Homo sapiens: one gene and its partners. The protein of the gene in region 5 purifies or fractionates together with the protein of the main gene of each other region. This does not show direct contact. Each region holds a gene or a part of one and is shown on either strand. Other genes may lie near its edges.

Region 1 (4,499 bases), on a different chromosome or scaffold from region 5:
ATCAAAAGGGTCTATAAAATAGATAATGGTGACAAAGCTGGCTTTAGGCTTCCTGGCACCCAGCACTAGGAAGAAAATAGTGAAAGTTAAGAGTCTTTGTGTTTCCAAGATACACAAGCCAATAGATTTTTTTGTTCTTCATTCCAAAGAAAATATTTTCAGATGGAAAATAACTAAGAGGACACTGGGTGGAGTGAACAACAGTCTCCAAAACCTGTATTTGCTTGTTTGAGAACTTTAGCTCTGGAGTCAGACTGCTTGGGTTCAAGACCCACATCAACCACTTTCTAGTTACGTGGGCTAAGTAAGTTACTTAAGTGCTCTCAGCTCCAGTTTTCCTATCTAAAACATGGAAATACTTTTTTTTCCCCCCAGGGTTAGGGTAAGGATTAGATGAGAAAATGCATGTAACACAGTTTAATGAGGGTTAGATGAGAAAATGCACATATCATGTAACCAAGTTTCTAGCAATTAGTAGGGACTGAATAAATGACAGCAATTATTACTATGTCCCCCAGCCCTGGTCTTATAAGTGAAATATGTGGTTTAGTAAGAGACAAAGTGATGCAAATCCAGGTAAGTTTTGGCATGGGTCAGAAATAACATTTAGAGTACATAAAACTGATGTTTTTTTTCAGTTTGGAGAGCTATGAGTCAGGGAGCAGTTTAAATCTAAACTGCAAATTTATCCCCTCTTCTTCCTGGGTTAAGAATCACTTCCACGGTGAATCAGAGAAGGGATTGTACCACTCGTCACGTGTGTTGGGAAAGAAGAAAGGGTGAGAAACCCTGGCCTAAACAATCCATCCCACAGATCCTCAGGCATTCCTTTGTGTACTTGGTTTTTCACCACTGAGCTTTAAATAAGAATGGAAATACAAGGGAAAACCTGCGTTGTAAACATGAGGATTTGGGAACAGATCTAGGACATGCCACTGAATTGAAGACCACCCATCTTCCAGGCAGGGCCAGAATTACAGAAAACAATTCTGGTAAAATATATTTTTGTATCACTTTATTAATAATTCTTTTTAAAATTCTGTATTTTCTTTATAGCAAGACAAGTAGAACACTAAACCATGAAAATTCTCTATGTGATTATGACCATAGTGGGTTTTAGGCCTTAAAATATTCAGATCAGGAGTTACCAATTGTTTAATATAGGACATATATAAACAATCAAACTTATTGTAACTTAACCTTCCCCAAGACACACTTGACATAAAATGTGCCCTATGTAGCAGAGCATATTGAGTTTGGGTACATGAGAGCAGTGGAGATATGGAAACTAAAAAATTAAGTCTTTCCAGTGAAAAGTGATAGTCTCAAATGTTCATATATAAATGCCTTAGAAACTATCTCTGGCAAGTCCTCATGTATGACCTGGCCACTGGGAAATAAAATAAATTTTAAACTAAAAGCTTTCATTCAGCTCAGGTTGAATGTTTAAAAATGTATACACAACACAGTGGCATTTGATGGGTCCAAGGGTCCCCAAGGTGTCCATGGATAGAATTGAGTGGATCTCTGATAGTTGTATTAGATAATCAATATTTGTTGTAATCCTCTGTGTTTTGTTTTTTAAAAAAATGGGTCTGTAGGCTTCACTAGACTGCCAGAGGCGTCCATGGTACAAAAAAGGCTAAGAATCTTATTGATATACACTTTAAAATCTATGTACTGTACTGATTGGTAAGAAAAAAGAGAGGTTAGAGAATATTTACATTATATGACCATAGAAGCACCATGAGTATGTTATTTACATTGAAATTATTATAGCTCTGTATTTTATTTACTGAGAGAGATCAAGAAGTTTTCCGTATGTTAATTGTTTAATCTTCTCAGAATTTAACATTTGACCACAAAGAGATTAAATTGTTCTCTTAAGTTGTATATGAACTAAACAACCTTAGTTAATTAATCCATTACTAATTACATCCTGCAGATTATTCCATTAGTTAGAGAGCACAGAATTCAGGTCAGCACTTTTTCTTTGCACACCTGCTTGAAATAAAAAGTGCTTCTAATAGGTTTATATCTAAACCCAGCAGTATATCTCCTTCTCGCGGATTTATACCTAAATCACACCATGATTTTTAACATCTGGTTTCTTTTGCCTCTCTCAATAATTTTTTGTTGTTGTTCATTCCATCAAATGTGAGTTGAGATGTGGGAGGCATAAGGTCAAATTCCTGAAATTAAGTTAGATTTTGAAAACACACTTGGAATAGCATTTCTAAAGTTTACCTGTGTACTTAATAAATAAAACCTTAAAATTAGACCCAAATATGAATTGATCCATTTCTAAAAACGTTTGGAGCTTCCAGTTAGTCTCTAGGCACTCTGAGACTATGAAAATTTTTCTGCTAAGCTATACTTCCAAGAAATATATTTTTCCTTTAATGTCAACATATTGAAATCATTATCATTTTCTTTCTACCTTCTTTCCAGGACAACTAAACTACCTCGGATCAAGCCACCAAATATGGCATATCCTTGCAGTAGTGATGTTATATTGGTGGCATCAGTCAACAGTGTATGTCATGCAGTACAGACATAGCAAGCCTTGTCCTGACTATGTTTCACATTTGTGAATTAGGTATGGCCACCTGGTGAATTCAGTTGTTAAGCAATATATAATGGGGAATTGTATACCCCACTATTTCTAAGATTCCCATTAGTTTTCCCTTTTTCCTTTTTAATATGAGTAATGCTTTATAAAAATGGGAAAAAAAGTATACTTAAGGATCTGTAGTAATAACTGCTTTACAAAATCCTTAAAACTACTAATTTGCTGCTTGTACAGAAAGTGAAAATTAGTTGGCAATCATAAGAAACATCTGAATAACAACGATGAATGGGAAACTAGTGTTGAAATAGGATTCATTTTACTTAGCACCAGCTTAATTTCCTTAGGAAGGGCTCATGTCCATTAGAAAATGGAGTCATCTTATGTGCTTAATTATTTTCAGTTAATTGTCAAGTTTAAGTGCCTAATCAAGGCAAGTGTTGTTTCAGCCTATGCTTAATGCAAGCTAGGATAGTGATTTTAAATAATCACTAAAATCACTAGATTTAAATAATCACTAAAATGATTTGTGAGAAACTGGCACTTCAGATATTATATCCTTTAGCTATAGGTTCTTCTCTCCCTAAGAACATTAGATATTTTAGTTTTCCAGAACAAAAGCTTTAAACTTCTGCAGTAAGTTGAGAGAAGGGTTGAGAAGAGGAAAAGAACTTCTCATTTTCTATCAGATAAGAATCACATTAGAAACTAAGTACAAGATTAGACAACAAATTATGTGGTCAAATAATATAGTCATTAGCCACCTAAACATTTTAATTCCAGATATTATTTAATTCCATATAATAACTGAATTCTTGTGAGTGGATTACAGGTTTTTGATCCCAAAATTCCAGAGCTTTCAACTCTCTGAATTTGTAGTCCTGAATATCCCAGTGGTGGGGGTTCCCAGCATTGTGGGTGCTACTTGCAAGGCCATAGAATCTAGATGGCCCTGTCTTGACCCTGAAATGAACCTTAAGCCTTAGAACAAAGTCATGCAGATGCCCCATTTGATAATAATCTTATTCACCTGTGCTCTGGTCCTCGGTTTCTGCATGTGTTAGCATTGCATTGATAACTCAGAATCTTGATAAACACTTAATATTTGGGCCTGAAGCATTAAACTTTCTTTTTATTGTATATACTTAAAAAATAGAACTCACTGCCCTATCATACATTGTAGCCCTCTTATTCTTTGGTCTTTCATATGCATTAGTTAAATCCCTTAAAGTAGACATTCATAAAAACTTACATTGTTTATTGGAGTATAAAATATTACCCAAGTTTCTTCATGAGTTGACATGAGCTGTTTTAAATACTGGTGTATTTTCAGAACAGTAAAATTACTGAATATCAGAAAAAATGTTAATTGATGATGAAGCTTATTCCCAAAATGCCTTTTGTGCATATGATACTTGGAAAGTCACTAATGTGCCTCAGTTAATACATCAGTAAAATGTTGTGTTTCTTTTCCAGTGTAGTGTTTTTGGAATATAAATTCCCCATGCTAGTATAGTATCTCAGCAAAGAGAATTTCCCCCCAGGAGGCTCAGTAAAGGAATACCGTGTCTTACCCATCGTTATGATGGAAGGCTGCTTTGAAAATGGCTGTTTTACCTTATAAGGTTAAAATTTTGATCCATATGTTAAGTGATAGAAGATTTTGGTGCAACAGTAGTAGGATATATTTCTCCTAGAACATCCCTTATTGGCTTACATGATTTTATTGCCTTTTAATAGATATTTTGTCATTTTGGCCAAACAAAAGACACTGAGTAGTTACACTTAAGTTAAAAATGAGGGGAAAATCATTATTTTAGGTGTGGAGCCATTTTTATTATAAAACTTTCTCAAAATAAAAAAACATTGAATCATTTCAATTTTTGCAGTCCCTGTATTAGTATATGAATACATACTTGCCATTTGAATT
Region 2 (4,499 bases), on a different chromosome or scaffold from region 5:
TTTCCATCTGAAAGTTATGCCAGAAATACTTATCAGTCATTACTCTGTACATGGTCTGATCTTCCCAGCCCAATTCTAGGTCTTCACGGTGACCTCTTCCTCTTGTGCCCCCCACCTTGAGTGCCTACCATATTTCTTGAACACAGGGTAGGTGCTTAAGGCCTGTTAACCCCTTCTCCCCTCAGTCTTACTCTCTTTCCATCACCTGGGAATCCCAGGGCTTGTGGAATATGGATCTTGCCTGGACATCAGCCTTCCTCCTTTTGCTCTTTAACCTCAAAAAGATGGTGACCCCTTGTGTGTGCACACCACCCAAGGTCACCCTCTGGACACCCCTAATTGGGCCAAGGCCAGTGTCACTAAACTCTCAGGATATTAGCCCTGGGCCAAATCTGCACAGCTGTGTCTTGGCCCAGCCTGGAGAGACAGGCTTGCACCCCAGCCTGGGGCCATAGCCAGTGGCCTTGCACAGCCCTCAGGCTGGCTCTCGGTGGCCGTGTTGTCCTACCAGTCAGCTGCTTCTGGATCTCGGCGTTCCCGGTTCTCCTCAGGAGGCTGACTGCCTCGCGGATCCCATTCTGCCTCCGGGTCTCCAGCTTGTTGGTGGTGCTCCTGAACACCAGGTTGCGCAGGGCCCCTGCCGCGGCCTGCTGGACGTTCTGGTTGGGGCTGCGGAGGAGGTCCACCAGCTTGCAGATGCCTCCCAGCTGATAGACCTGCCAGGAAAGAGTTGCCACGCTGCCTGGTCAAGGGAGATGAGGCTGATCTAGTTATTCTCTACTCAAAGGTGATTTTTTTTTTCAGACCAAAAAATCTATCAGTTCAGAAATATTCAAGTCAACCAAAATAAATAAGCAGTGTGAGGTCATGATAACTGACCCAGACCCGGAGGCAAAAGACCTGGATTCAGATCCTAGCTCCCATATCCTAGCTCCCATATCCTAGCTGGGAGAACCTCAGCTAGGGTCCCTCCTCTTTCCTGAGTCCTGCTTTCTTCCTCTGGAGAATGATGGTGAGGACCTGATAAGAGAGTGGATGTAAATACATTTCAAAACCCTAAAGCAGAACACAGACATAGAAATGCATACAAACTTATCCGGGACTCTGGGAAACTCATTTTTGACACTACATCCTTGGGCTGAACTGAAGAACCCTGTAGTGTCCTTCCTGCCAGCAAAGCTTTGGAGGCATCAACAGGCCTGTTTTCTACCGTAAGATGCCTGGAGAGAGAAGGGGAGTGGGAGAGAGGAAGCAGGTAGGAGGGCAGGAGTTGAGAGGTGAGGAGCAGTCATGTTCTTTAGTGGGATTTGAGAAAAGGGGTTTCTGTTGAACCCGTGGCTGGCATTGAAGTCTCTTCCATGACCAATGGAGGAATTGTACCTGCCTAATGTCCACTTAAACAGAGGGCTTTGCTCTGCAGAAAGTTAAGATGCCCAGCTCTAACCTTGGGCAATGCGAAGGCTCCTGGCAGCTGGGCAAGGCAAGAGAAGCCAACTGCAGATGCCCTCACCCATCTCTAAAAGCGGAGTCAGGCTGACACACCCAGGCCCTCCGCAGGCCCACCAAGGAGGAAGGTATGCAACCAGCTACCTGTTGCTTGGCAGATTCATCCTGGAAGCAGGTATGCTGGATGTAATAGGCCCCAATGGCCTGGTACTTCTCATCCTGGGAGCTCAGGTACTGCACAGCCTTGGGGATGGTCAGCCCACTGCACTCGATGTCCTCACTGCAGATCCTGTGAAGAATAGGCAGTGGGGGTGGTTACGGGGTGGGCTGGGAGCCCTGCTGAGGGGGCTCAGAATTCCTCCCAGCACACTAAGCTGCCACAGCCTCATCTGCCCTCTGGAGAGCCAGAACAAGGCAGCCCAGGCCCACTTGGAGAATACCCCTGGGAACAGCTCCTCTCCTCCAGAGGAGGGAAGGCTACACCCACTGGATTTGCCCCATGTGAGAATAGTGAGCCCCTGGTCACAGTTAATGTCCTAGCAGGTATGTTATCTCTCCACTGAGGAAAAACTCCTCCCTATTCCCTGAGGGGAAGCTTCCCACCTACCTTGCCATCTCTCTTGTTTGTGTCTGGTATTAGGAAAATGGAAGACAATGGCCATGATCCTATCCATCCATCCATCCATCCATCCGTCCGTCCATCCGTCCGTCCGTCCGTCCATCCGTCCATCCATCTGTCCATCCATCCGTCCGTCTGTCCGTCCATCTGTCCATCCATGCATCCATCCATCCATTTATCCATCCATCTATCCATCCCCAAGTCCAGCTGGCTCTTACACAAAAATGTTCACATCTAGCCTTTCTTCCCATTCTTATAGCCACCAATTTCCTGATCTTGATCACTTTAAAGGCAGCAAGGGACTTCCATATTTGGCTTTCTTCCTCAAGTTCCCCCATCTAAAATTTCATACCCTTTTTACTAGATAAGTGGTTCTAAAACCCAGTTCACTGTGTTGTTCTCTAGCTCAGAAACCATCAGCGGCTTCTCCATACTTCAGGTTCAAGTTTAAACAGCTTAGCCTGATGTCCAAGGGCAGGTATTAGGTTGAATCATAGGAAATGTCTGTAGTCAACCTTTTTTCAGCCATAAAACCAGAAATTTCATATGTTTTAACCTAATAACCCGGCTCCACTATGAACATTCCCCAGCCCCTATCCAGGGTCTGCTCCAGCAAGACTGTCCCCTTCACTGTACCCTGGCCAGGTCTCAGGCATGCCTCAAGGCACACCACTGGCCCTGCTGATGCCCCACATCTGTGAAGCCTTCCTAGGGAAGGGAAACCTCTCTTCTAAGAACCTCTCCAGCTCCCCTGGTGTAGAGTCACAGGGTGGTGACTGGCTGTGTCCAGCATTCAAAGAGGGAGCCCTATCCTTATGCTTTGACATACTTGGTGGTCAATAAATACCCATGGTTTTAGCTATAGCAGCCCAACTTCATTTCTAGGAAAACCACCCGAGGTGCAGAGTTCTCTGGCACTGGGTAAGTAGTACTGCTGCCTGCATTGAGAGAATGTCACCCTGCATTCATCAGTAAAATGTCACCCCAAAATGGCTTGACACTCATCCCTTCCATATCTCACCTAGAACCTCCACTCAGGGCCTCTGGTTGGGACAATGAGCTGAAGCCAGAGGCTGCCCTGATCAGCCTCCAAGACAGAGAGGTTTCTTAGTTCTTCTCCAGATCATCCTAAATACGCCTTACGGCCATCAGGTAGTTCGGAAACGTCTAGCTCTATAACGGGGTTCTGCTTATTTTCAGAACAGTGTGGTACCAGTAGGGAAGAGCACAGGATGGAGAGCCAGCTGTGTGGCCTTGGACAAACTACTTAACATCTCTGTGCCTTGTTTTCTCCTCAGGAATACTCATGCCTGCCTGGTGGCGGGTGTGAGGATTAAAGATGAAGAATGCAAAGCTCCTGAGGCTCTCAGAAAAGGAGTTAATTGTGTAGCTCCAGAACAGCTCTGGGTTGTCCCTATCATGGCTGTGTCTCCCGCACTTGTCAAAGAGCCTGGCATGTAGTAGATGGTCGGCAAACATTTGCCAAATAAATAAATAACAAGAGCAGTAGGTGGTGATGAAGGACAGTTCAAAGGTTCAGGGAGCCCCCAGCCCTGAAGGGCAGGCTCAGTGTCACTCACGACACCTCTGCGTCTATGGCTCCTAACGGGGCACCCCATTTGGTCTCCTTTGTTTCCTCTGGGTGATGGCCTTCCACATGTATGCACAGGAGTTGTGCTCTGTTCTGTAGCAGTAGATCATGAAGCCCCATGAAGTCCCTCAGGGTTTTTGTTGTTGTTGTTGTTGTTTGTTTGTTTGTTTGAGACAGGGTCTCACTCTGTTGCCCAGGCTGGAGTGCAGTGACACTATCTCAGCTCACTGCAACCTCCCCCTCCCGGGCTTAAGTGATTCTCTTGCCTCAGCCTTCTGAGTAGCTGGGACTACAGGCACCCGCCACCATGCTTGGCTAATTTTTGTATTTTTCTGTAGAGACAAGGTTTCATCATGTTGTTCAGGCTGGTCTCAAACTCCTGAGCTCAAGCACCCTCTACCCGCTCCTGCCTCGGCCTCCCAAAGTGCTGGGATTACAGGCGTGAGCCACCACACCCAGGCCATGTCCCTCAGTTTTTATGTCTATTTGTCCTATTTGTCCTTTGGATTTACCTGTCTTATAACGTAACCTGAAACCCATTCTATTCCCGTCGTCCATACCGGGGCATATTCCTTTGCTCTTTCAGAACATGGATAGAGATTTACATGCCTAAGATCAGAGGTTCTCAAACTCTAGTGTAAATCAGAATCACTGAAGGGCTTGTTAATATATGCATTGCTGGGCCCCTCTCCCAGTGTTTCTGAGACAATAGGTCTGGGTGGGTCCCCAAATGAGCATTTCTAACAAATTCCTGGGTGATGCTGATGTTGCTGGTTGGAGGAACACACTTTGAGAACTATTAGCCTCTTTCTGTTCATAAACTGTGACCTTTAAAACCTACAC
Region 3 (4,499 bases), on a different chromosome or scaffold from region 5:
ATGTGTTAGCAAGAGAGAAAAATAAGTTCCAAACATAATGCAGAGAACTATCCCATTTGATAGAATACTGATATACATGGATACTATGTAACATTTACACATTTCTGAGAAACATAGAAAAGTCGGAACATATAAAAGATATTATTAATAGCTTCCGTGGGGTGACAGGATTATAAGTAGTTTTGATGGCTTTTTTTTTTAATTTTTTCTTTTGTTATTGTTGTTTTTTTTAAATTTAGAGACCAGATCTCACTCTGTTGCCCAGGCTGGAGTGCAGTGGTGCATTATAGCTTACTGTAACCTCAAACTCCTGGGCTCAAGCAATCTTCCCACCTCAGCCTCCCAAATAGCTAGGACTACAGGCACACACCATCACACCTGGATAATAATAATAATAGTAATTATTATTATTATTTTGAGACAGAGTCTCACCCTTTTGCTGGGCTGGAGCGCAGTGGCGCGATCTCGCCTCACTGCAACCTCTGCCTCCCGGGTTCAAGCAATTCTCCTGCCTCAGCCTCCCAAGTAGCTGGGACTATAGGCACGTGCCACCATGTCCAGCTAATTTTTGTATTTTTAGTAGAGACGGAGTTTCACCGTGTTGGCCAGGAAGGTCTCGATCTCTTGACCTCGTGATCCACCTGCCTCGGCCTCCCAAAGTGCTGGGATTACAGGCATAAGTCACCACGCCCTGCCTATTATTATTATTATTATTATTTTTAGAAACAGTGCCTCTCTATGTTGTCCAGGCTGGTCTCAAACTCCTGGCCTCGAGTCATCCTCCTGTCTCAGTCTCCCAAAGTGCAGACATTATAAGAGTGAGCCACTATGCCCGGCCTATTTTCTGCATTTTCTAACATACACATGCACTATCTTAAAGCACAAAAAAAGCTATTAACAAAGAAATAATTAAAAGTAATTAGCTATAAGTTGTCAGTTTAAAAAAATCTGGACTGCTATATTCAACAAAGTTGTTTACATTCTAGATTTCAAGGCCCCTCAGAAGCACCTCCCTGTGTAAATGAGGGTTCTTGCCTCCAGAAGGTGGCCCCACAAATGAGGAGTGAAAAGTAACAGCCGAATGGCCCCACTGTTGTACTAATCTTGTTTGTTTAAAGAGAAACTACAGACACTCTCTCTATTAAAGAAAAAAAGAATGAGGAGAGACCGAGAGAATTAGAATGTGCTATATACATTACAAGATCAAAACCAGTTTAGGCCCAAGTCTTCTTGTAATTTCATCTTTTTCCTCCCTGAGGGGGTTGGGAAGCCCTCTCTTACCACAGGTTAAGAGGCGAGAGGTCTGGTGGAATTTCACATCCACAGTGCCCTTAGGAAAAGCTGGGTGTTTTTGGCAGATTGAAGCATTCTTTTTCCAGGCTGTGCTTTCACTACTGGGTACAGATAATGTGGCTTAAAGAGCTAATCGGGAGCTGGAACAGACAGAAATTCAAGAGCAGAGAGGCATCAGGACCTAGAACTTGGCCTAGACTCAGAGAGAGCTGATTCAAAGCTCAGAGCCACCAGGGACCTGCTGGGCGACCCTGGATCCATCACCAAGCCTCAGTTTCCATGTTGGAAACAAAGGGAGAACGACGTCTGGGCTCAGAGTTAGGAAAGCACTCTGTTAGCTATAAAGCAAGCTACATGGCAGAGTCGCCCTCAGCATGTGACCCCGCTTCAAGCCTGCCATCCAGTCTGGGATGTCAGACCCAGGGTTCTACTGGCAGGTTAGAGAAGAGGAGTCAGGTGGGAGACTTGGAAGATTTGGTACAACACATGGAAGATTTGGTACAACACAGAAGTTTCTGCGATTTCCTCAGACTAACCCTTAATTAACTACAAACCACGGTCTACGCCTCCTTTCCATCAATTATCTTATTTCACCTTCATAGCCAGCCTTGGAAGTGGACTTAGGTGGGTCTGTATGGCAGACAAGGTCCTTGAGGCTTAGATAACTAGAGTCTCTAGGGTAGGCCTAAGTCACACAGCAAGGCAGGTCCAGGGCCAGGATTTGAACCCAAGCCTCAGTCCTGAAGGATGCCCAAGGAACATAGATGCTGACACGCCACACTTTTCTTCCTTCCAGGCAAACATGAAGAGAAACAGCAAGAAGGTGGCATTGTTTCTAAGAACTTCACAAAGAAAATCCAGTAAGTAACCTGGAGTCATGGAGCTCAGGGTGGGAGTGGAGGAGGGGGCACACCTGGGACCCATGATCTGGGGTCTCTCCCTCTTGGGCATCTCTCTTTTAAGACACCTCCTTGGGGCAGGGAATTGAACCCTCACACCTAACGAGGAGAAAATATCCCAGCAGACCTGTAATAGGGTCCCAGAAGGGGGAGCACATAGATTGCATCATCTCATCTGCTCGGTGCCCTGTGAGGTGGGTATTAAAAACCCCATTTTATTTATTTATTATTTATTTATTTATCTTGAGACCGAGTCTCACTCTGTCACCCAGTCTGGAGTGCAGCGGTGTGATCCCAGCTCACTGCAACCTCCACCTCCTGGGTTCAAGCGGTCCGTGTGCCTCAGCCTCCTGAGTAGTTGGGATTACAGGCATGTGCCACCATGTCCGGCTAATTTTTTGTATTTGTTTAGTAGAGATGGGGTTTCGCCATGTTGCCCACACTGGTCTTGAACTCCTGGGCTCAAGCGATCCACCCACCTCAGCCTCTCAAAGTGCTGGGATTAGAGGCTTGAGCCACTGCACCCGGGGAACAACTCCCTTTTATAGACTAAGCATCTGAGGGTAAGCAAGACAATGACTTGTCCACAATCACACAGCCCCTACCCATGGGGCATAGCTGAGGGAGGACCCCTGTCACCATCCAGAAAGACCATCCCCTGATTCCCCAAATGCCCCAGCAGAATATCTTCCAGGCTGCTTGCTCAGCCTCTGCCCTGCCAGGAAAATGAGCACCTTCTCTAGGGCATCCACAAAAATGAAGTTGGAAAGTGTCCTGAGAACACTGCATACTACCCAGAGAGGTTTGGAGGCTGAGACACTGGGACACAGGAAGAGCTATTTTGCTGAGGGGAGTAGAAGGGATTCATGTTTAACAGGGAAAGGGAGCCTGGGGGAACCGTGAGAGCAGCCAAGGACAATCAGGCTGAGGCCATGAACCAAAGCCACCACGAGCCCCTAGCTGGCAGTACCTATAGGGAGCAGAGTTGCACAGTGTGGTCACGATGGCTGCACTTAAACAACTGCCAGGTGCTTCATACATACCTTCTCCCTAATCAGCAATCAGCGTCACTCCACTATGTGCGTTTCTGGCCCCTAAACTCTCTCTCTCTCTCTCTCTCTTTTTTTTTTTTTTTTTGAGATGGAGTCTCACTCTGTTGCCCAGGCTGGAGTGCAGTGGCACGATGTCAGCTCACTGCAACCTCTGCCTCCTGGGTTCAAGCAATTCTCCGGCCTCAATCTCCCAAGTAGCTGGGATTACAGGTGCATGCCACCATGCCTGGCTAATTTTTGTATTTTTAGTAGAGACGGGGTTTCACCATGTTTGGCCAGCCTGGTCTTGATCTCCTGACTTCAAGTGATCTGCCCGCCTCTGCCTCCCAAAGTGCTGGGATTACAGGTGTGAGCCACTGCGCCTGGCCCCTAAACTCTTTTCCAAGCCATCGTTGCATTTAGCCTTTGCAGCAAAAGTGTGCATCGGAGAGGAGACATGACCCTCCTTGCAATACAGGGAAACTAAGTCTCCCACAGGTGAAAGGACATACCCAAGGTCTTTACAGCTAGAATTTAGAAGGGCCCAGAATAGATCCCTGACCTCTGAGTTCCATGCTCAGTCCTTGGGCAAGGAATGCTGTTTCCTCATCTGTGAAAGGGATGCTGATTCCAGCCTTGCAGAGTTCCTGGCTGAAAGTGACATAAGGTCATGGCCCAGCGTAGGTCCTCATAAGTGGGAGTTCATTATTACTATTGTTATTGTTGACTCTTAACTTTTCCATCAGCCTTTGCAAAGAAATTCTGTGTGTGGAGAGATCACACTAGCTGAATTCTGAGGCTTCTTCCAGCTTGGGATTCTACATTCCTGTCTCTTCCCCCACATGTCCGTCCCTGGCCCTCCCACAGCCTCTGCAGTTCTTGGAAGCCTGTGGACACTTCCTGATAAGGCAAACGCCAAACCATTTGTTCTTCGTGTTTGCTGGCTTGCCTGGCATCTCCGTGCCCCACACCTCTCCCTGGTTTAGCAAGCAGATTAAACATTGCTGAGGGAGAGGAAGGAAGGCAGGGGGTGGGGGGAAGCTGATGTCAAGGCTCAAATGAGGTCTCAGGGTGGAGTCACAAGCAGGGCATAGCTGTAAAAGGGACTGTGTAAGAAAGAAGTGAATTAATCATCTTAAAAGGGGTGTGTGTGTGTGTGTGTGTGTGTGTGTGTGTGTGTGTGTATTTCACATGCTCCAAGGCCTTAGGGGAGATAGCTTGCTGGAAGTAACCTGATGAGAAATGCCTGAAATTGCTCCAGGCTGGTGCTCAGCTG
Region 4 (4,499 bases), on a different chromosome or scaffold from region 5:
TATTGGGCTATGCCCACCTGGCCAAGCCTGGATCCCCAGATTCTGGGCCTACAAATCCAATTAATTCATAAGGCAGCCTCAGAGAGTAATATCGATGTCTTCTGCAACCCTAAAATGCTCCAGACCTCTGACAGAGCATACTATATATACCCTATTCTGATGGCCAGTGGTCCTCTTGCCTGCAGGCCTTGCTTTCTCACCTGATTTCATCTACATCAAAAAGCTTCTTTTGGCCAAGCACAGTGACTGCACCTGTAATCCCAGCACTGTGGGAGGCTGAGGCAGAAGTATTGCTTGAGCCCAGGAGTTCGAAACCAGCCTGGGAAACATAGTGAGACCCAATCTCTACAAAAAATAAATTAAAAATTAGCCAGGCGGGGTGCTGCATGCCTGTAGTCCCAGCTACTTGGTAGGCTGAAGTAGGAAGATCACTTGAGCCCAGGAGGTTGAGGCTACAGTGAGCTGTGATGGAGCCACTGCACTCCAGTCTGGGTGACAGAGCAAGACCATAATTCAAAAACAAAACAAAACAAAACAAAACAAAAAAACTTCTCTCGTAGGAAGTCTTGAGAGTAGACATTAGGAGGTCAGGCCTCCACATATCAGCAGTTACTGGATTCCACACTTCCCTTACTTCTAACAACCAAGCTCAGTTCAAGTCAAGAAACAGAGGGTAGCTCTTCCTCTTCCCTTCCTGAAAAACTCAATCCTAAAGCCATTAGGTGCAGCAGAAGAGGGCAGATATCTACAACGGGTGGAGTAGGGTGAGCCAGAGAGGTCTGGGGGACACTGTCAGAGCCCAGGCAGGGTGAGGAAGACATCCTTGCAGAAGTGGGAAGGTGTGGTGCAGCATGTCAGAGCCGAGGGGGATGTGGAGAGCATCCATGTCGGCTGGCAGTCTGATGTGGGGTGACACACGCAGGGTAAAAGAGGCACTCATGAAGGGTAAAGGGCAGTGGCAGTAATGAGGATTAGCTACCTACAGAGGAACTGATCAAAGAAGTGCATATATTAAGCATAATGGGACCCAGGTTTCTCACTGTTAAGAGAAAGGAGTTAAAATATGGAAAGGGAGAAAATCTGTGGTGTTGGATTGGAATTGGCAGGAAGAATGTGAACTCATGGTTTCTGATTAGATGTGTATCAGATAGATAGATGGATACACACACACACACAAATATACACACATATGCATATATATTTTCTAGCTCTATTTAAGGAAGAGCCAGGGAGCAGTAACAATGGCAATGAGCACACCTAGCACTCCATTGCCTTCTTGTTTTTTTTTTGAAGACAGGGTCTTGCTCTGTTGCCCAGGCTGCAGTGCAGCGGCACAATCATAGCTCACTGCAGCCTCGAACTCCCACGCTCAAGCAATCTTCCCACTTCAGCCTCCCAAGTAGCTTGGACCACAGGCATGTGCCACCACATCCAGCTAATATATATATATATATATATATATATATATATATATATATATATATTTTTTTTTTTTTTTTTTTTTTTTTTTTTTTGTAGAGATAAGAGTCTCACTACGTTGCCCAGGCTGGTCTTAAATTCCTAGGCTCAAATGTTCTTCCCACCTTGGCATCCCAAAGTGCTGGGATTACAGGCATGGGCCACAGCACCCAGCCCCAGTTGCCTTCTAAATACCATTCCCCACTAAAAGAAACAGAGGTCCTTAGAGAAATGGCTGATTCCAGGGATGCAGCAAGAGAAATACAAGATGAGCGCATAACATCTTGTATCAGAAAGCAAGGAAACACCCAAATAATGATGGGAACATACCAAAAGGATACAGAAGCCACCCACTGGCCAAGAAACAATGATAGTAATGGATTATAATGCACTGAATAGAAAACCATGAGTCCATAAAGATATAAATCAATAAAATTAAACTTTGATGTGAGATATTTACATAGTTTCAAAGTATCACCCCACAAAATACTTATTAATTACAACTAGTAGTAATTTTATGATGGAGAAGCCTGGCAGACATCACCTTAATCAAGTGATCAAAGTGAACATTATCAATAATGGGATAAATCAAAATCACACGACGAGAAGAACAAAGCATCATTTCTGTTATATTCCTGAAGCTACACAACCTAAATCTAATCATGAGAAAATGTCACACAAACCCTAATTGAGAGACAATCTAAACAATAACCAGCCTGTAATCTTCAAAAGTATCAAGGTCATGAATGCCAAGGAACGTTTACTGAGGAAAGTCTAAAGGAGACTAGAGACTTGATAACCAAATGCAACCCACGATTCTGAACTGGATCACTTTGCTGCAAAGAACATTCCTAGGACAACTGGCAAAACTTTAATGGGGTCCAAGGTTTATATAGAGGTTTTATATCAATGTTAATTTCCTGATTTTGATGGTTGTATTTTGACTAGGTAGGAAAATGTCCTTGTTTATAGGAAATGCACACCAAGCATTCAGGGTGATGGGGCATTAGGTCGGCAACTTAACCCTCAAATGGTTCAGGGAAAAAATTCTTTCTACTGTACTTACAACTTTTATGTAAATTTGGGCTGTTTCAAACGTTTTTTTAAAATTGTTTTTTAAAATCAGCTGGGTGGGGTGGCTCACATCTGTAATCCCAGCACTCTGGGAGGCCAAGGCAGGCAGATCGCTTGAGGTCAGGAGTTCAAGACCAGCCTGGGCAACATGGCAAAACCCCATCTCTACTAAAAATACAAAAATTAGCCAGGCATGGTAGCACACCCCTGTAATCCAGTGACTCAGGGGGCTGAGGCAGGAGAATCGCTTGAACCTAGGAGGCAGGGTTTGCAGTGAACTGAGATCACATCACTACACTCCAGCCTGGGTGACAGAGACTCCATCTCAATAAATAAATAAATAAATAAATAAATAAATAAATAAATAAATAAAATTGTTTTTTAAAATCCATGTGCAATGTGGTTACAATTTTAAAATTAAAAATATCACACAGACAGTATTTGAAGAGACAGATCTCCCTGTAATGCCCACAGAAGGTAGGCTGCATGTTCTCTCTGGTAGAGAGGCTCAAAGCATCTCTCAGCCCAAACAGTATCTCTATCCAGCCGAGTTTCCATCAGAAGAGCCCCTACTCAATGCCCACTTCACTGGCACTCCTGCTACCATACAGCCTTCTCAGGAAACACACCTGCTCCCTGCAGCAGCATCCCACTTGCCCTTGCACCCTCCGGTGTCTTAGGGATTTCTCTTTTCTATTGATGTCTTTATGTTTTAGTCACAAATTTGCAGGCTATAAGTCTATAGCTTATAATATCAACTGGGACTTTGAGTATCTAAATGAGGGCCAGAACTCAAAAGAAAGTTTATGATTCTGCCTATTTCTGCAAACTATCTTTCATCAGAGACTAAGATTTATACACATTTATTCTCAGACATCCTTTTCCGTCTCCTAGCAAATTAAAGGTATTAAGTAGCCCATGGCAAGGAGGAAAATGAATGATTCTCTCCTCAATATGAAGGGCCCAGGTCCCCAGTGGGGACAGGGGAGGGGTAAATGGGACTGCCACGGGGCCAGCCCGATTTGGAGAAGCAGGCCTGCGCCAGAGCCCCTGGAGGATGGTCTCTGTGCAGAGTATTTACACAACAGACACCAATGGCTCCTCTGCAGCCATTACTGTCTATCAGGTAAATAACACATGTGCCAAAACACACATTTAATGAGGGAAATAATATGCCTTTATAAAAAGACTCAATCTGTATTTACCTGAGAGACCAAAGAAGCACCAAATCACCAGATTAGAGGAACCACAGAGGAGTCGTTCTGGTGTCTTGGGTAAATAGACATTTTATAGCCTCCATTACTGGAGGGGTGAGCAGAGGGGGTCAACCTTTAACATCCACACACACAGGCCAAGGGAGTCCTCAGGATGGGAAAACAAGAGGAGGCCACTGTGAAACAGGTGGTCTACTCCCACTTCCACCTCCCCAGCCACATGTACTTGGGATCTCTGGGATGGTGTATGTTTATACCACCCCTGGATTCAATTCATTCCATTAAAAGCCAGACTAGGAGGCAGGGATACATCCAAGTAACTCCAAGTTACCTGCAACAGGTTCTGAGTCCAGCTGACTGAAAGCACCTAGGAATACAACAATCATAGCTTCCTCAGTTCTCAGTCCTGGTGTAAGTCCCCAACCCAATCTGACCTGCAGTATCACAAGTGCTCAGGCACCTGAGTCACAGAAACAACAACAAAAAACACAGTAATACCTGTCTGGAACTCAGTCACTGGCTTTGTCTCAAGCAGCTAAAAATAGCCTGGGAAAAAATACAAATAAACTGCATCCCTTCAAAAGTCATAATCTTCAATCTAATGAATATATCCTTACTGCCAGAGCACTCTCTGTGTGAAAAACAAACTGTCAAAGGTGAAAGAAAACCTAAGAGGCAACACAGTCCAACCAGCCAGGGAAAATGAGATTAGAAAGAGAAAAGGACTGCCCAAGGTTCACACTGCAAGAAATA
Region 5 (3,407 bases):
GTGCACAGGCTTAGGCATGGCACCGCCCTCCAGCAGAGCTGCCTGAACTGAGCAAGTGTGAGTCCACCCATTATATTGCCCACAGCTGAACACAGCCCTAGGGCAGTCAACGCCAAATCTTCTTTATCTCGAAAACTGGCCTGCTCTTTTTAACCACGGGCATAAATCAGACAAGAAGAACTGGGGTGGGAAAGGTTTCAGGTTGCCAGTAGAGGCTGGACATTTTGAACCCTGGACAAAGTGACTGGAATCTTTGTTTCCCCTGGCCCTGGAGCTTTTGTAACCGGCTGGGTGTGGGCTTTGATGTCTGCGATTCGTTCTTTAAACTTCTGCTGGAGGAATTTTTCTTCTTTGGAGTAGCTCTTTACAAACACCGACATCAGCAGGCACCCTGCCATGGACGTGCCTCCAATGCAGAAGAGAACAGCTCCTGCCAGCTTGTACATGTCCAGAGCACTGTTAAACTGGACAGCATGTGTGTCGACCACCACAAAATCGGCTTCGCCAAATGCTTCGATTTTGGGGGGCACAAGAAAGCCCACTGCCAGAACAGTCAATCCGAGGATCACAAAAACTGTACCTGAGATGAGTCCAACCTACAGGTAGATAATGACAGAAGCAAGATAGAGTGAGGAAGGTGCTTCGGCTCGCCCCTGAGCCCTCAAGGGCAGCACTTGTCTTGTTTCTTGAGAGAAATGAATATTCCCAGTTACCCCAAATTTGCAGGAAACACTTACTTAATTTTCTGTTGAAAAAGGTGAAAGATGATCTTTCTAATTTTAATGCCAACCAAAAACTCCAGCACTCAGCCTTGAGATATATGTATATATCATATATATATATTATATATCTAAAGATATACATATATTGTATATCTAAAGATATATATATAATCTTTATATTATCTAAAGATATATATAATCTTTATATTATCTAAAGATATATTATATATAGCTAAAGATCTATATAATATATATGTCCAAAGATATATATATTATATATTATATGTCTAAAGATATGTATATTATATATATATCTAAAGATATATATAAAATATATAATATATATTATATACCTAAAGATATATATTATATATAATATATATCATATATCTAAAAGTAGATATGTAATATGTAAATATATATATAAATATCTTTTTTTTTTAAATTTGTACAATGCTTTGCAGTTGACAAAACCTTCTTTTGCTTACATTGTCTCATTTGGTCTTGAGGAAAAGAAGAGTAGCCCTGATATCCAGGAGCTGGCCTTACTCTGTCCCCTAGGCCTCGACATTGTTAGAAGCTGGCTAGGAGCTCACAGCAAGGCCATGCTGTTCTGCCAGGCACCATCTCACAGAACATTAACACATGCTCATTCTGTGACCATGATGAAGTGAGACAAAACAGTAGCCCTTCATAACTTTGTCTAAGCACAGACAAAAACAAGGTCCTTGTAAAAACCACAAAATACGACATGACCCCCGCTCCTGGCTAATATGAATGACACCTACTTCTTTCTCATGATGGCTTTAGTCTCACTCTAGTCTGTCCTCTCTATACATAAGATATATTAAGATATCCAATCATAGAATTGTCCCTAACAATCCAGAGTGAACTCTTGCTTCATTAGACCCTCCCCAAAATCACCCAACCAGAGCCCACATCCTATAATATTATACATCCTTTTCACACTCTCATATTGCAATGCCCCACAGTCCCCTATGGTGACATTCTTTCTTACTGTAATGAGTAATACATCCAACTTGTTCAACATATAGGTGTGTTCCTGGTGGTTTTGGCTGGAGGACATGGACAGTCTTTGTAACTACTCACCTCTTTTCAAAGTAAGCAGAGAAGGAACCTTAATGGCCAGTTAAGGTAAAGAAATGTAGCGTCAGAGAGGGTAAGTCATGGACCAAAGATGGACAGCTAGCAAGCTGCAGAGGCAGGGTTAGAACCCACAGAGCTGATCCCCAGGCCAGTGTTCTTTCTCCTCTCACATGTAGCTATTTGGGGTATACTTGTGCAGGTGCTAGGAAGTGTTCAGAATAGCAGATGGAGGTTAAACTGCATTAGCTCAAGTTCTAATGAAATGTAACATACTAAAGATGGAAATGATGTACCATTTGGTGGTCAATGCCCATAGGTTTGAAATAAATGGACGCATGCTTCGATTCTACCACCACCACCTAGCACTTGAATCATAGAAGGAAAGTTACTTAAAAGCTCTTGTCATTAATTTCCCCATCTATAAAATGACAAATGCTCATAATACCTACCTCATAGAGGACTTGTGAGGACTAAATGAGACTATCCATAAAAGCACTTAGCCTTGTATCTGGCAAAGTTATACATTGTATCTGGCAAAATTATAAATTGTAATAAGTAGCTATTCTTCTTATTTGGAAAGACACCCCTTGAAAAATTGTTATGCTACATTGGTAACAGTATTACGATTGCTCAGCACTTGGAATAAGGAATAGCTAACACCATTACTTTTTAAAGTAATTTTTCCTTTCCTTCTGTTCTTAATTGCTTTTAGTTAGAATAACAAGGTTAGGAAAATAACCAGATACATAACATAAATTAATCTTTAATATTTAAATTTTTGAGATAATATACTAATAAAGGAGGCTTGGCTAATAGAAGGAAAACGTATCCACAAATCTATCACCCTAGCAAAAATGGGAAAAGTATAACTGGTATTATTGAACATCTATTATGACCTGCACTAATGCTAGATGTGTTTTTTGTTTAATCTTCACAAGCATCTTATGAGAAGTAGGTATTTTTATTCCAATTTCACCTATAAGAAACTGAGGATTATAAGGTTAAAGAAGCATACTTTAGCCGGGCATGGTGGCTCATGCCTGTAATCTTAGCACTTTGGGAGGCCAAGGTGGGTGGATCATCTGAGGTCAGGAGTTTGAGACTGAGAGGTGAAGCCGGCTGGGCTTCTGGGTCGGGTGGGGACTTGGAGAACTTTTCTGTCTAGCTAAAGGATTGTAAACACACCAATCAGTGCTCTGTGTCTAGCTAAAGGTTTGTAAACTCACCAATCAGCACTCTGTGGCTAGCTAAAGGTTTGTAAACTCACCAATCAGCACTCTGTAAAAAACACACCAATCAGCGCTCTGTGTCTAGCTAAGGGTTTGTAAATGCACCAATCCACACTCTGTAAAAATGGACCAATCAGCATTCTGTAAAATGGACCAATCAGCAGGATGTGGGCGGGGCCAAATAAGGATATAAAAGCTGGCCACCCGCGCCAGTAGCCGCAACCTGCTCTGGTCTCTTTCCACCCTGTGGAAGCTTTGTTCTTTCGCTCTTCACAGTATATTTTGCTGCTGCTGACTCTGGGTCCGCACTACCTTTATGAGTTGTAACACTCACTGCCAGGGTCTGCGG
Region 6 (4,499 bases), on a different chromosome or scaffold from region 5:
CTTGAGAGGCTGAGGCAGGAGAATTGCTTGAACCTGGGAGGCAGAAGCCGCAGTGAGCCGAGATCACCGCATTGCACTCCAGCCTGGGCAACAAGAGGAAAACTCCATCTCAAAAACAAAAACAAAAACAAAAACAAAAGGGTTGGGCCAGTTTATACTTCCTGCCGTGTATGACATATGCAAGATGTCTAGCTGACCTGGGACTGGTTTTTGTTGCTTTTAGGAACAAAATATGAAGGAATGGCATACCCCCACGCTCAGGAGGGCTGCCCTGCAGATAAGTTTTGTCAAGCCTCTATTTCCAACCCTCATCTCCCTACTGTCCTCCACTGTGCACATAATGTCATTCTGGATGTTGTAAAAACTGGAAATGGTCTTGAAGAAGCTGTTTAGTAAATGGTAGCACATGCATTCCACAGAACACTACGTAGCCATCCAAAATGGTGCCGGTGAAACTCAAAAGATAGGAAAATATTAAGAAAGCAAAACAAGGCAGTTTGAACATGAAAATTGCAATGAACATTCCTGTAAATCACATTGGGGTAGAAACAAAGAAAAATATAATTGCAACGAATGCAAAAGTGCATACGCACTCCAGAGGTTTCGGCCACACTCCCCACTTTCAGGCGTTTACAGTTCCCTCTGCCGGGAAGCCTTTTCTATCCAGATCTTTGTGTGGCAGACCTAGTTTTAATCCTTCAGATATTGGCTTATGGGTGCTTTCCAATATCAGTGACCAATTCTCTGATTATCTGGATACCAACTGGGTGTTCAACAATTCAGTTCAGTTCTGACACCAGCTCCCAGACTTACTTAGCATCAGCTGCCACAGATTAAGGGCCCAGTTCCACGACTGCCCCACTTTAGATGCCAGCTGCAATGGGGTGCGCAGGCTATCCACACTTCTTCCCAGCCAACTTCAAATCTGGAGGTTCCCACAACCCCCACTCTGGTTTGATAATTCACTAGAACAGCTCACAAGACACTAGGGAAAACACTTTACTAACTGCTACCTGTTTATTATAAATAATACAACTCAAGCTTGGACAACATGCCAAAACCCTGTCTCTACAAAAAACACAAAAATTAGCCGGGCATGATGGTGTGTGTCTGTAGTCTCAGCTTCTTGAGGGGCTGAGGTGAGAGGATTGCTTGAGCCCAGGAGATTGAGGCTGCAGTGAGCCATGATCACACCACTGCACTCCAGTCTCAACAAGAAAGAAAGCCCAAGAAAAAGTCCCCACGAAGTCCCTCCAACTGCATTCAAGCCGGAAGACGAAGTGAGAGGCTGCTTCCTGGCAGAAGGGCCACTGAGATGTGGCCCCAGCTGGATCAGTGCTTAGAGACCCTCTGGTCCAGCACGCATCCCCACAGCCCTTTATTTTTTATTTTTATTTTTTGAGATGGAGTCTCGCTCTGTCGCTCGGGCTACAGTGCAACGGCGTGATCTCAGCTCACTGCGACCTCTGCCTCCCAGGGTCAAGCGATTCTCCTGCCTCAGCCTCCCAAGTAGCTGGGATTACAGGTGTGTGCCACTACGCCCGGATAATTTTTGTATTTTTAGTAGAGACGGGGTTTCACCGTTTTGGTCAGGCTGGTCTTGAACTCCTGACCTCGTGATCTGCCTGCCTTGGCCTCCCAAAGTGCTGGGATTACAGGCAGCCAGCTCACATCCCCCTTTTTATAATGGGAAAACCATCAACCAGAGTGGAGAAGTGACACATCTAAGGGCATACAGCCAGATGGTGGTATAGCTGAGAAAGACAGAATTCGGAATTCCCCTTGGGGTTTCTAACCTGAAAATATCCTTTCAGATTGGCTGGTGTTTTATAGTCCCCTTTCAAGACCTAAGGAAGAGAAAAAGAAATATCACTATTATGAAAATGGCCAAAAAATAAAATTTAGTCATTCCCAACACATCCAGTCATCCACCCATCCACCTCGCCACCCACCCATCCCTCCATCCAACAAACATTGCTTAAGCTCCTCTTCTTCTAGGCATTATTCTAAGCATTGTGTCTGGTTGACATGATGTTAACCAGATAATGGAAATTCCTGTTCCCCTGGAGCTACCATTCTAGAGGGGGCACCAGATAACATACAAGAAAAATAAACACAGATAAACAAGGACATAGCAAACCATGGGAACTGTTGTGAAAAAAGTACAGTAAAGAGGTGGGATTAGGAGTAACCAGGGGGCTTCTTTTGAGTGGGTGGTCAAGAGGGGACTCTTGGGCCAGGCGCAGTGACTCATGCCTGTAATCTCAGCACTTCTGGAGGCCAAGGCAGGAGGATCACTTGAGTCCAGCAGTTTGAGATCAGCCTGGGAAACACACTGAAACCCCATTTCTAAAAAATTAAAAATTAGCTGGGCATGGTGGCATGCACTTATCGTCCCAGCTGCTCTGGAGCTACTCCAGCCTCAGCTGGAGGATTGGTTGAGCCCGGGAGGTTGAGGCTGCAGTGAAGTATGATCACATCACTCCACTCTAGCCTGAGTGACAGAGCGAGACCCTGTCTCTAAGAAAGTGAATAAATAAAAATAAAAAGGGCCTCTTGAAATAGATAACCTTTGAGCTGAGACCCAAACGACAAGGAAAAATAGGTAGGCTAAGCTCAGAAGAAAAAGCACTCCAGGCAGAGGCAACAGAGCAAAGGCCCTGAAGTTAGAACCACAACATTTCAGGCCTTTCCGCTAGTAGTCACATTTTAAAATAAAATGAAACAAGGGAGATTAATTCTAACAATATCTTTTATTTAACCTGATATAGCTAATTTTTTTTTTTTTCTATTGAGACATGGTCTCACTCCCATAGCCCAAGCTGGAGTGCAGTGGTGCGATCACGGCTCACTGCAGCCTCCACTTCCCAGCCTCAGGTGATTCTCCCACCTCAGCCTTCTGAGTAGCTGGGACTATAGGCACGTGCCACCATGCCTGGCTAATATTCAATATTTTTAGTAGAGATGAGGTTTCACCATGTTACCCAGGCTGGTCTCAAACTCCTAGGCTAAGCAGTCTGCCTGCCTTGGCCTCCAAAAGTGCTAGGATTATAGACATGAGCCATCATGTCCAGCCTATGTAAAATATTAACATTTCAATATGTAATTTATATAAAAGTGACTAATAAGAAACGTTACATACTTTTTTGTCCTAAGCCTTCAAAATCTAGTGTGTATTTTACACCTAACAGGACCTCTCACTTTGGACTAGCCTCCTGTTACAGAATCAGGGGCCACACATGGCTAGTGGCTACCGTATGGGACACTGCAGGCAGAGACGATTTCATCAGCATAGATGTCCTTTTAGCCACTGTGTTTACTGAGCCCCAGGATCCATTATTGGAACACACAGGGTCCACAGCACTCACAGAAGCACACAGGCATGCATGCAAACTCACAGGGCTTAGTGAGAGGACTTTTCTTTGCAGTAACAGCCAAGCTATGGCAAAAACTAAACCAGGGATCTAGCACTTGCCAAGACTTGTTGACCGCCCCAGGGAAGAAATCTCTTTGGATGAAAATGAGAGACAGCTTCCATTTTAAATAAACAAACACAAAAAGCTCCAAAGAGTTGATGTTAACCACCAGTGCTCATGAAAATTATTTGTGTTTTATAAAATACATAAAGTCAGGCTTTACTCCAGGAACGTCCGACCCATAGCCTGGGGCAAGCCAGGGGCAGCGAGCCACCTTTTAAGGAGACCCCAGAGGAGCCACTGCTGGGCCCTTGGCTGAGAACAGTGAAGTAAGCAACATCCAGCCCACTACTGCAGTGTCCCCAGCCGGCCCTCGCCTCTGCTTCTGAGAAGCACCTGGGGCTGGATTGTGAGATCACTACCATCTTTTTAATCCAGTTAATTAATTTTTTATTTTGATAATACATGTACAACCCACAGGCAGATAAAAGTATGTAAAACACATAAGTAGGGTTTAAAGATTACTATTATTAAAGAATAATAAAATAAAAATTAATAATATTTATAATAAAAATAACAAACCACATCTGGGTTGCAGCCATTCACCTGTCAATGTCGGCTGGTATGTACGTTGAATCTCTGAGTATTTCCATAAATAGATGTCTGCAAAATCAACTAATGTCAAGAGGAAGAGGAACTCACGAGACCCACAGACAAAGCTTACACTTCAATTACAAGGGCACAGCCCCCAAAGCTCAGCGTTAGTAAATTCTCTTTGTTAAAGAGAGATCAGTGAGTGCTAGAGAGGTGGTAATGACTTTTTAGCACCAAATGGAAACTTTCTTCTTGAGCCAACTGAAGAGTTACGGAACTAAGAGACGATTAACTTTTTTCCGTTGTGATTCAATACGATAACTGTTTATTTCCTAAAATCAGCACACGCTCAGAAATGCTGAGCTTAGCTTAAATTAAAGACTCTGGGTCTTAATGAAGTAAGGGCTGTGAAAGCTCTTCCTCAGGCCTGGGTCCCATTTTCAAATATTTGCCTATAAGGAAGTTAGAACACAGCACTTAAAGTAAACT
Region 7 (4,499 bases), on a different chromosome or scaffold from region 5:
CAACTTCAGGTTCCGTGTGCTGTGCGGAGCGGGAGGGGTCGTGAAGACTCAGGGGCCATCTCCTACCCCAGATGTTCGCACATCTGTCCCCGAGCGCTGCTTGGAGTGTGTGTACGTGTGTGCGCGACACCCGCTTGGACCCACTCCCGCTCTGCCACCTGCCTGCCGCGCTCTCTGCAGAACCCCCTCCCATCCCAATCCCCAGCAGTGCTGCGTCACTTCCAGAGAAGCCCAGAGGCGCGGAGTTCGGGGCAACCTCGGACCCGGGGTGGGATCTCAGGGTGGGATTCGAAGCTGGGACCTGCCAGGGACCTCCAGCTCCCCAAAATGCGATCTCAAGCCGTGAGCTGCTCAGGCTTTCAGGCGGAGCAAAGCACTGGCACCCTGGGAGCCGGCAGCGGGTGGCCAGGGCGAGGCCAAGCCACATACCTCTGACTCACCCGGTGTGCGCCGGCCGGGAAGGGGGCCTGGTTCAGCCGCCGCCGCCGGCGACGAGAACCAATTCTGGGAAGGAGCAAGATGGGGCAGAAGGTGCGCGCGGGGGAGCAACTGAGCAAATAACACGGCGGTCGCGGCGCGCGGCACCTTGGGCTGGCGCGTGGCTGGGAGGCCGCATGGGCGACGCGCACCAGGCTGCCCCTCTCCTCACTGCGCCGCCTCGCCAGACCGCAGTGCAGCCGCTAGCCTGCCTCCCTCCCTGCCCCGGGCGCCCCCGCCAGTCCCCTGCGCTCCGCTCTGCGCGGCAGGCTCGCCGCGACCCCTAGAGAGACGGCTTTGAGTGGCGGGAGGCCGAGGCCGGCTGGCTTGGGAATCCAAGCGCTGGCCCAACTAGGTGAGAGGAAACTGGGGTGGGATTTCGGAGAGGAGGGCGGAGAGAGGCGGGAAGGAACCAGCTTGAGCCCCAGGAATGCGCGCAACTTGCACAGCCTCTAGAAGCGCCGCGCGCCCAGCGCCCGCCGGTGCGCAGGAACAGGTGAAGAGCACGCGGCGTGCGGCCATCCACGTGGTGGGGACGTGATAGCCCCTCAGCTCTCCTCCTAGCCCTCCCTCCCCTTCCCCGCCCCCCAGCGCCTTCTCTAACGCCGCATCGATTTGTTTGGGCTACGCAGCAGAAACAGAGCCCAGCGATCCATAAACATTCTATTAAGCAAAAATATTCCCAGCGAAAGCAAAACCGAGGCTGAAGCCTCCGCGAAGTTGGCCGCCTCCAACTACTCCATGCTTGTGCCCTCCTCCTCCTCCTCCTCCTAAGGACACCCCCAGGGAAAAGCCTGCGGCATTTCTTCAACGCTGCCCTATGCCGGAAAGTTAGGTCTCGGCTGCAGCGCTGGTCTCTGGAGAAGCCTCTGCCTGCAGCCGCCGGCGAGTTCCCGCCTCCCCTCCCCAGCCGCCTCGCTCTTTGCTTTTCCACGTGAGAAAAAGAAATGTTCACGGCCGATGCTTCATTTTCACTGATTGATTTCTTTTTAATATCAACACAAGTTAATGGAGGCAAGGCGCGCTCTGATTGAAGGGCTGCCCCCGCCCTTCGACTCGGGCTGGCTGTGCCGGGGGTCTTTCCCACCGGGTCGCAGGCGTCCAGCGGCTGGGTGGCGGGCGCCGGTAGCCCTAGTGTTTGGAGGTGGGGGAGGGATTTGGAATAGACTTGTCGCCCCTCTGGGAATCATCTGGGTTGGGGAACCTTCGGGAATCAGCTTTCCAGACCAAGTTTTAGGGGATCTTGCCCATATGCGTTGCGGCTTCTGCGGCTCCGGCTGAATTTCTTCTAAAAGATAGGAGATCCACGCTCAGGTTTATTGGCGTGTGCTCCCTGCTCGGCTCCCCTCCCTCCACTTCCTGTTCTTTCGGTTTCAGACAGAGAGGAGAGCCCCCTGGCGCTAGCCATTCCCGATCAGCGCCCACTACGAACGTCCCCTTTGCTAGAGTTAATCATGATCTGCGGGGGGACTGGGTTTTGCTCAGAAAATCATTCAAGTCCTGACAATGGGTTTCTTCAAATGGTGGCAACTCCCAGGCCTAATGTCCCCACCTCCGGGACACATCGCTTGGGGCCAAAAGAACCCAGACCCCATAACCATCTACCCCTCCCCTCCTCGTCTGGAGAGCTTTGATCTATGCTTGGGTTTTAACGCCATTGCCATGGACACGCGCAGATTCTCGGTCAATTCACCCTTCCGTCTGGACTGGATGATCAGATAAGAGGTGTAAATTGGCTGTGGGAGACAGGTCTGGGTTCAGACAAATCCTGAAAGAGAAGCAATGACGGTCTAGGCGCCGGATAAGGGTTTGAAGTGTTTCTTTTAGCCTGTCTCCCCAAAATGTGAGATGGCCATTGGCGAGCATAATAATTTGCAAGTAAACTGTAAACTCCTAGATTTTACGCAGACGGCCTGCTCTGGGCTCTAGGGATTGGTCTCATGCCCACATTAAATGGGTACCCAGTAAACATTTTTCCCCCGTGATCAGCTCCTGGAGGTAGGGAAGCTGTGGCCAGTTGCCAGCAGAGCACACAGTGCAAGACAGTGGCAAGAGGAGCACTCCCCAAAGGGCCCCGGGCAGGCCCCTACTCGTCCAAGCGGTGCCTGGTGGAATTGTGAATGCGCCAGTGCACATCAGGTTTGGAGTTTTATGTCATCCCATAGAGCCCTCAGACATTAAGCTACGGAGCACTCAACTGGCAAAATGAAAGATTGGAAGGCTGCAGTGACTGGAACCCAGGCTACCCAGACAGGACTCCTGCTGTCTACCAAATGGCTCTGATCCCCTGCTGTTGAATGTATCAAGTCCACGTTCTGCAGCAGAAAGGCCAGTTCCTATCTTCCAGGCATAGAAAAAGCTAGGAATCCAAATGCCAATTCATATGCAGTGAGGCACGAATACAAATGACAGTGAGGGAGGGGTCTGGGGTCAGTGAGGAGAGACACCAGGGACCAGATGATTCTGGGGACCCTGGTGTTTTTCATTTCACTCAAGTCTTCCCTAAAGCAATCAGGAAAATGAACTGACTCAGGATGACCTGAGTGTAAGACAATTCTGAGTTGACAGAATTCAAGAGCCAGGTAAAGAGGTTTCCAAATATATTCTCCAAAGGTCCAGTTTGGAAAGACTTTAGGAACTTGAGCTGAGATCTTCCTTTCTTAAAAGATAGAGCAAAAGAAGAATATCTTTTTAATTTCTTGAACTGACAAGAAAGGACTTGAAAAGTGTCATCTGGGCAATGGCTTGTAGTGTTATTAACATATTTGAGGTATTTTATTATCTGACCATCACTTGCAACTGGATAATCTTTGAGATACCTTCCTTGAGTGGCAGATAAGTATATTGATCACCAGAAGTTAGTCTTTGTACTGTTCCTTCCAGGTAAGGACTTGGCTGTTTGCTGATTTTTGTTTTTTAATTAACCCATTTCTGGAAGATGCTGCAGAAGTTTGTCCTGGAGAGCTACAGTATTTTTCAAAGCTTTATCTGCCTTGATGAGAAATGGTCAGAGGCTTAATGGTTTCATTGCCTAACAGGATTCAGTGGAGTAGGATTCCAGGACACAGTGGCCTTGTATCATGGCTGGCCCTCCAGGAGAAAGCATCTTCTAAAGGTTTAGGAAGCTGTCAAGTTTAGATAAGGCTGAGCTCCGATCCTCTGGGACCTTGGTTGTATTAATAAGGAGAAATTAATTTTTAACCACTGGGAACATTGCCAAATTATGTGACCTTTGGCAGACCAGCTGTGCTATAAAAATAAATCCCCCATTTCTGAAAATGCTACTCCTATCCAGTAGAACAATAACAATGTGGCATTTAGGATAGAGAAGAGTAGGATTGAGAAGAAAGGAGAGAAATAGGAGTTGGCAAAAAACAAAAAAACAAAACAAAACAAAAAAAACAAAAAAACCCTTCGATGTTGTGATACATGGTTTCAGACCTGAACTTCCTATCCATCACCCGCCCTCCCCGGCCCCATGCCTAGGGTTTCCAGAACACAGGAAAGAGGGCCAGGATGACAAGGAGCTGAGTGCCTGTGTGTACAGGGAGTGGAGAAGGTGTTAAGTGCTTCCAGCCCACTCACACCCCAGCCTCAAACACATCTCTCATTGTTCACACAGACAGAGTACTGGCACAGGCAGAGAAAAGGGGGTTTTCAAACAGGCAAAATATTTGTCTTTCCCTAAATGCTACCAAGTAGGTTTGCCACTGAGAAGTTTTGTGGGGATCATCCCTGGCCTTCCCAGCTTCTGAAACATGGGAACTAGACTGCCTGGGTTTAGAATCTAGCTCAGCCACTTGCTGGCTCTGTGATCCCAGTATCCTGTGTGATCAGATACTTAGTCTATGTGCCTCGGTTTCCTTGTCTGTAAATGTGTTTGGTAACAATACCTACTTCATAGGGTTGTTGGGCTATGTCAGATTATGTAGAATACTGTTTGGCACATATGAAGCCCATTCTGAAGTCACTGAATCTTTAAAACTGTTTCAGTGGGGTTAGTGGAATCTCGTGATCGTAGA

Evidence for each region.
Region 1: the proteins of NRSN1 (region 5) and PAQR3 purify together in Homo sapiens (affinity purification with mass spectrometry; one large-scale study listed by BioGRID and IntAct). This does not show direct contact.
Region 2: the proteins of NRSN1 (region 5) and PKP1 purify together in Homo sapiens (affinity purification with mass spectrometry; one large-scale study listed by BioGRID and IntAct). This does not show direct contact.
Region 3: the proteins of NRSN1 (region 5) and HSPB8 purify together in Homo sapiens (affinity purification with mass spectrometry; one large-scale study listed by BioGRID and IntAct). This does not show direct contact.
Region 4: the proteins of NRSN1 (region 5) and ERI3 purify together in Homo sapiens (affinity purification with mass spectrometry; one large-scale study listed by BioGRID and IntAct). This does not show direct contact.
Region 6: the proteins of NRSN1 (region 5) and TPST2 purify together in Homo sapiens (affinity purification with mass spectrometry; one large-scale study listed by BioGRID and IntAct). This does not show direct contact.
Region 7: the proteins of NRSN1 (region 5) and NRP2 purify together in Homo sapiens (affinity purification with mass spectrometry; one large-scale study listed by BioGRID and IntAct). This does not show direct contact.

Annotation. Positions count from the first base shown.
Region 1 is NC_000004.12:78,918,634-78,923,132, reverse strand, and holds part of PAQR3 (progestin and adipoQ receptor family member 3), read left to right. Parts: intron 1-149; exon of another isoform or gene 150-304; intron 305-638; exon of another isoform or gene 639-992; intron 993-2,451; coding exon 2,452-2,594; 3' UTR 2,595-4,499. UniProt on the Homo sapiens protein: Golgi-scaffold protein which modulates its interactors acitivies by anchoring them to the Golgi apparatus. Functions as a spatial regulator of RAF1 kinase by sequestrating it to the Golgi apparatus.
Region 2 is NC_000001.11:201,313,789-201,318,287, reverse strand, and holds part of PKP1 (plakophilin-1), read right to left. Parts: intron 1,736-4,499; coding exon 1,591-1,735; intron 717-1,590; coding exon 509-716; intron 1-508. UniProt on the Homo sapiens protein: A component of desmosome cell-cell junctions which are required for positive regulation of cellular adhesion.
Region 3 is NC_000012.12:119,184,936-119,189,434, forward strand, and holds part of HSPB8 (heat shock protein beta-8), read left to right. Parts: intron 1-2,089; coding exon 2,090-2,153; intron 2,154-4,499. UniProt on the Homo sapiens protein: Involved in the chaperone-assisted selective autophagy (CASA), a crucial process for protein quality control, particularly in mechanical strained cells and tissues such as muscle. Displays temperature-dependent chaperone activity.
Region 4 is NC_000001.11:44,341,375-44,345,873, forward strand, and holds part of ERI3 (ERI1 exoribonuclease 3), read right to left. Parts: intron 1-4,499.
Region 5 is NC_000006.12:24,142,737-24,146,143, reverse strand, and holds part of NRSN1 (neurensin-1), read right to left. Parts: intron 597-3,407; coding exon 198-596; 3' UTR 1-197. UniProt on the Homo sapiens protein: May play an important role in neural organelle transport, and in transduction of nerve signals or in nerve growth. May play a role in neurite extension. May play a role in memory consolidation.
Region 6 is NC_000022.11:26,530,899-26,535,397, forward strand, and holds part of TPST2 (protein-tyrosine sulfotransferase 2), read right to left. Parts: intron 1,848-4,499; coding exon 1,797-1,847; intron 1-1,796. UniProt on the Homo sapiens protein: Catalyzes the O-sulfation of tyrosine residues within acidic motifs of polypeptides, using 3'-phosphoadenylyl sulfate (PAPS) as cosubstrate.
Region 7 is NC_000002.12:205,684,991-205,689,489, forward strand, and holds part of NRP2 (neuropilin-2 isoform 2 precursor), read left to right. Parts: intron 1-4,499.